Linked DNA regions of Homo sapiens: region 1 is linked to region 2. The links come from fine-mapping of genetic effects on gene expression. A gene starts in region 2. The other region holds a variant in brackets. All regions are shown on one strand. Distances are between the middles of the regions. Region 1 overlaps APTR (Alu-mediated CDKN1A/p21 transcriptional regulator). Region 2 holds the start of PHTF2 (putative homeodomain transcription factor 2).

The links. PIP is the estimated chance that this variant, and not a neighbour inherited with it, causes the effect. A credible set is the group of variants that fine-mapping cannot tell apart.
Region 1: its variant is the best candidate, but not a certain one, in a credible set for the expression of PHTF2 in whole blood (TOPMed, PIP 0.86).

The regions. Positions count from the first base shown.
Region 1 is chr7:77,689,820-77,692,728 of GRCh38, forward strand. All of the region lies in intron 1 of APTR (Alu-mediated CDKN1A/p21 transcriptional regulator), which reads right to left. Among named protein-coding and RNA genes, the nearest start is that of APTR, 5.0 kb to the right of the region's middle. RefSeq lists an enhancer at 2,249-2,748. The variant G/A (reference allele first, on the strand shown) is at 1,252.
Region 2 is chr7:77,797,484-77,800,392 of GRCh38, forward strand. It overlaps PHTF2 (putative homeodomain transcription factor 2), which reads left to right and starts at 1,290. Exons shown (of 19, transcript NM_001395272.1): 1 at 1,290-1,488. It overlaps TMEM60 (transmembrane protein 60), which reads right to left and starts at 951. Exons shown (of 2, transcript NM_032936.4): 1 at 771-951. RefSeq lists an enhancer at 711-820 and a silencer at 1,231-1,370.

The DNA.
Region 1 (2,909 bases), 110 kb before region 2:
AATTAGCCGAGTGTGGTGGCGCATGCCTGTAATCCCAGCTACTCGGGAGGCTGACGCAGGAGAATCAGTTGAACCCGGGAGGCAGAGGTTGCAGTGAGCCGAGATCGTGCCATCGCACTCCAGCCTGGGCAACAAGAGTGAAATTCTGTCTCAAAAAAAAAAAAAGATGAGCAGGTCAACGTGGTGGAGGTAGAGCTTTGAGATATCTATGCCATAAGGACAGAAGAAATGTCCTTTTTTGTTTGTTTGTTTTGAGACGGAATCTCACCCTGTCACCCAGGCTAGAGTGCAATGGCACAGTCTTGCCTGGCTGTAACCTCCGCCTCCCAAGTTCAAGCGATTCTCCTGCCTCAGCCTCTGGAGTAGTTGGGACTACAGGCATGTGCCACCACGCCTGGCTAATTTTTTCATATTTTTAGGAGAGATGAGGTTTCACCTTGTTGGCCAGGCTGGTCTCAAACTCCTGACCTTATGATCTACCTGCCTCGGCCTTCCAAAGTGCTGGGATTACAGGCGTGAGCCACTGCACCTGGCCAGAAATGTCTTTAAGGTTAGTACATGGCTGCATAAAGTACAAGGGTCAAATAACTGCTTTCTTTATACAAGGGGATCAGGAACCTGGACAAGGCCAGAGGGATAGTACATGTGCAGAGTGAAAATACAGTTCAGCTCAGAAAGGCAGAAGGATGTCACGTGCAGAGAAACCAGATTCTAGGTTGTACAGAGGACAGCTCTAAGCACTGCGAACACACATTTGTTATGGCTGGAAGTTTGAATATATTCGATTAGCATCTATTCCAGCAACGGACAAAGACAGGGTTGTGAATTAAAATAAACAAAACTCTCAAAACGATCTTAACAAAACGAAGCTACTCCTTTCTAGATCAGAAGTCAGCCTGCTAGTCTGTGGGTTATAACTGACTCACAGATGTTTGTTTGGCTTGCATGGTGTTTTAGGAAACTTCCCATTAAAAAATCTATATATTTAGCAAGTAGGACCACTATTTCCATAAGGGAACGAGCAGCGAGAGCTGAGAAACACAAATGTATATTGTAGAAAACACATCATATTCCCAGTTTTCTATAGTACCCTCCACTTCCTGTGATCTCACATTCAACCTGACTCTGACTTATTATTTTTTACCCATTGCTATGGTTTCAATGTGTCCCCTCCAAAATTCAGGTGTTGAAACTTAATGGCCAATGTAATGGTATTAAGATGTGGGGCCTTTAAGACGTGTTTAGGCCAGA[G/A]GGGTTGCTCTCTTGTGAATGAGGTTTATGGGATTACAAGAGGCTTCATGGGCAAGTGGATCGCTTGAGCCCAGGAGTTTGTGACCAGCCTGGGTAACACAGTGAGGCCCCATCTCTACAAAACATAAGCAAAAATTAGCTGGGAGTTATGGCGAGTGTCTGAAGTCCTAGCTACCTGGGAGGCTGAGGTGGTAGGATCACTTTAGTCCAGGAGGTCGAGGCTGCAGTTGCGCCACTGCACTCCAGCCTGGGCGACAAAACAAGATTCTGTCAGGCCGGGCGTGGTGGCTCACGCCTGTAATCCCAGCACTTTGGGAGGCCGAGGTGGGCGGATCACGAGGTCAGGAGATCGAGACCATCCTGGCTAACACGGTGAAACCCTGTCTCTACTAAAAATACAAAAATTAGCCGGGCGTAGTGGCGGGCGCCTGTAGTCCCAGCTACTCGGGAGGCTGAGGCAGGAGAATGGCGTGAACCCGGGAGGCGGAGCTTGCAGTGAGCTGAGATCGCACCACTGCACTCCAGCCTGGGCGTCAGAGACAGATTCCGTCTCCAAAAAAAAAAAAAAAAAAAAATTCTGTCTCAAAATAAATAAGATAATAGAGGCCTCATGAAGCCTTCAGCCTGCTGCCTTCTACCATGTGAGGCCAATATGTTCCTCCCCTCAGGAGGATGTGGCCCATATCAAACAAATGAACCTGCCAGTGCCGTGATCTTGGGCTCCCAGCCCCTAGAATTGTGACAAAATAAATTTCTGTTCTTTATAAAAGACCCAGTTTCGGCTGGCTATGCTGGCTCATGTCTGTAATCCCAGCACTTTGGGAGACCGTGGTGGTCAGAGTGTTTGAGCCCAGGAGTTCTCGACCAGCCTGGGCAACAACATGGCGAAACCCTGTCTCTACAAAAATACAAAAATTAGCTAGGTATGGTGGCAAATGCCTTAGTCCCAGCTACTCGGGAGGCTGAGGTGGGGGGAATGCTTGAGCCCAGGAGGTCAAGGCTGCAGCGAGCTGTGAAGCTGCCACTGCACTGTAGCCTGGGTGATAGAGCTGAGACCTGACCTCAAAAAAAAAAAAAAAAAAAAGAAAAAAGAAAAAAAAAAGGTGGAGAAGCAGGGTGTAGGGTAGGTAGGGTAGTATGCTTTCGGTAGAGCTGTTACAGAGAATGAAATGGAAAAGGAAGCAAGAGATAACCAGTGAGTCAACAACACCAACGACTGAAAAGCAAAAAGGAATGGAGATGAGAAAAGGCACGTCGCGTTCAACAGGTCCAAGGTCCAAGAGTACCTGAAACTTGTCACTCTTCCACTGTTTCTTGGCTCAGGGAATGGTACCACTGCCAAGTTTTGCTGGTTAGAAATATAGAAGGTATTCATGATATCTGCCTCCCTTATGTTCATTATCCAAATCATCACATAGGCAACAGCCAAAGGAAAAAGCACGTCAAGTAGAGAGAATCACATATGCAATGTTTCTATGTTGAAAGACAACATGGTGGGTTCTGGAGATTAAAGACCTGTTAGTTTGAAATAGAAGAAGGGGATAGTTCATGAAAGGTCTTACAGGACACATTAAGGATTTTGTTTTTTGTCCCGAGAGCAATGAAAGCCATTGACTTCAGGTCTGAAGCAAGGCAAGAGAGATGGTCAGATCCAGGTT
Region 2 (2,909 bases):
TGCTGAGCTACAACGATGACATACGATCCCAGTTTTACATTTACGTCTTCATCAATTTGAGCAGTCGTTATGTTTCCTACTATTCTCTCCACAAGAAAGGGGGAGGTGCGTACTCCAAAAATGTGCTCAACTAAAATGTTTCCCATTTAAGGTGGTTATTTCTGGCACTAGGAAGACAGTTAAATATTTGTTAATGATTCCTTACTCATTTTTAAAACCTTCGGAGTTACCCCTGTATGGACATATATAGAGCCCCACCCACATAGCCCACGGCTGGGTATCAGCCCCCATTTCCCTTCTCTCGCCACTGCCAGTAGTCTACCAAGTGAACCTGCCTCATCCCAAAGATAATTTTGCTTCATGAGCCCACATATTTATTCTTCTTCATAATGAGTCGCTTTTGAAAAGCCCGTGCAGCAACAGCCTTGGCCAAAGGAACAGCGTTCTGCTTACAACTTAGCTCATCTGGGGGCCTATTTGCCCCTGGAACTTCAGGACGCTCCTAAACTATACTTGCCCTTCTGCAAACACCGACAGTCGGCTCGCGGCGCCCCACCGGGACGCTCCCCTTTCATGGGCTGTAAGCCCAGCACATGCTGGAGTTTAACACGGTTCCTGCTGGATGCGCACAGAAGCCCTGGAGCCAAGCAGGCGTGTGCGCGTTTGGGGCTGGCTGTGTGATGGGTTGAGGGTCGGCCGCACAGCCCACGGAAGCATCAGGAGACCAGCGCCGGCGTACGGTGCGGGCTAGGGCAGAGCCCCAGACTCACCTGGCAGCGCTGCCGGCCGGAAAGCGGAGAGGGACGCGAAGATCAGCAAATTCGCCAGTTTGGATCCTTGTCCTTTTCCGCCCTTTTCCCCCCATTAAATCCAGAACCCGTCACATGATAATTAAGAAAAAACTTCAGTTCCGCCTCCTCAAACGACTGCGGTAGAGGATCTCTCAGTTCTACCTCAGTGCCGCGCCCACATCCGGGGCTGGTTCTCACCGCCCCTGAGCCTACCCTATAGGTAGAGAGGACGCCAATCTGGATTCAGAGGTCCCTTTTCCGCGGTAATTGGACCATTTGTCCGCCAGTGCAAACCAACCGACCTTTCCTTACTTTCGGGTTCGACAGAAAGGCGGCAATAAAAAGACCCATTGGTCCCGCCTCTCTACTGTCACGGGTTAGTAGGGAAGTCAGTCCAAGATCAGCCTGGAGTTTCCGTGCTCCCATTGGGCCCACAGATGTTAATCAGAGCAGCCGGCGCTCAGCTCCGCCCTCTCGGGACGCCCCGCCCCTCCTCCCATCCTCCCTGCCCGCGCGCAGTGACTGCAGGCTCCGGCGCAAAATCCTGCGGGAGAGGGGGTGGGGCAACCCTCTGGAGGCAGCGCGCCCGCGGGCAGCCTCGTTGTGGCTCCTTGGGCTCTGTTGGCGGCGGCGCTAGCTTCGGAGTCTCCCGCGCGCACCTCAGCCGCCTCCTAGCGGCGCGGCGCTCGCTCCTACGGTAAGAGCGGCATCACCTCCGCGCTCGGGTGGGCAGTGTGGAGGTCGTCGAGTTCTGACAGAATTTCGAGGATGGATCGGGACGAGGGAGGAGAGCGGTCGTCGGGATGGAGGTGGGGGCTCCGGGGCCAACGCGTCGCCCTCCGTCGCCGGCGACTTTCCCGGCAGTCTCCCGTACCTGAGGGCCGGGGTCAGCCGCGACCCCTTCTCATCAGTCGGCCGGTGGCGGAGGCTCAGCCGCCTTCCTCCCGAGCTCGCGCGGTCCTCAAGTCTTGATGGTGACGGGCCGAAGCCCAGCGCGCCACCCGCCCCTCGGGCCCCGCTTCCAGGCCCCTGTCCTTTGCTTCCTTCCCTTGGCGCTGTGCTGAGGGGTCGTCGGGTCCTGGAAGGGCGTTCAGGGGTCTCGGGTGGCTAGCCCGGCTGGCGGGGAGATGTCAGCTAGCGGCCGGAGGAGCGGGCTCGGGAGGGGGCGGCGGCTCGCGCGCTGGAGGAGGTGGAAGGAGGGTCGCTGCCCTGCCCCCTCTGAGCAGGCGGCAGTCGAGTTTTCTGATCCCAACACGGCGGAGTGGGTGCTTAAGGCATGGGCCTTAAGGGATAGTTCCCGTCTGGAAACAATACCGTGCTCCATCAGCATGCTTCAGCTTTTCTTATTTTTATCTGCCCAGTGTTGACAGCCAGCATTCTGGTATTGTCCTTCGAGTCATGGCTTTCTAACTCAGCACCTCCTTGTGTAACTTCAGGGATCATTCTGTCACTAATCTGTCACCCTTCTTATTTTTAGCGTGGCGAAAACAAGGAACTGCCTTATACTAACCTGGGCAGTGCAGAATCTGGAACAATTTATTAATCTCAGTGTGTACTTTACATGCCAAGTAATTTTGAAATTCATGGTGAATATTAAATATTTTGTAGTTTTCGGTTGCTTTCTTTGTTAATAGTATATCCTCCTTGCTTTGAGACTACTTTTCAGGTGTGATACTTTAATCTTAAGGTTTTTGGTTAGCTTTTGCCATTTTTAAACGTTTCTTTCATTTTTTTTTTCTCCAAGACTTTGGCAAGAGACTTAGTATTTGATCTTGTTTTCAGGTATTTTTGTAAAGTTTATTTTCTTTCAAACTGGGCTTTTTTCACCATATTTTTAATATTGGAAGGGGAATTCTGAAAGTCTGGAAACTGCACACTTTAGCCTAAAGAGTCACAAAACAGTATAACAATTTGAAATCCTAACTTGGATATGGTGTATGGACTGCAAATTTTAAGAGAAGGAAATGGATATGCGTTATCAGTTGTAGTGGCTCCACCTCCATAACGTAGAGGAGAGGAATCTGGAGGTCTGCGGAGAATGAGCCATGTCTGGGGCCAGAAACAGTGGTTCCAGGAAATATTTTTGCCCCAGAAATAGCCTGCCTCCCACACAGACTG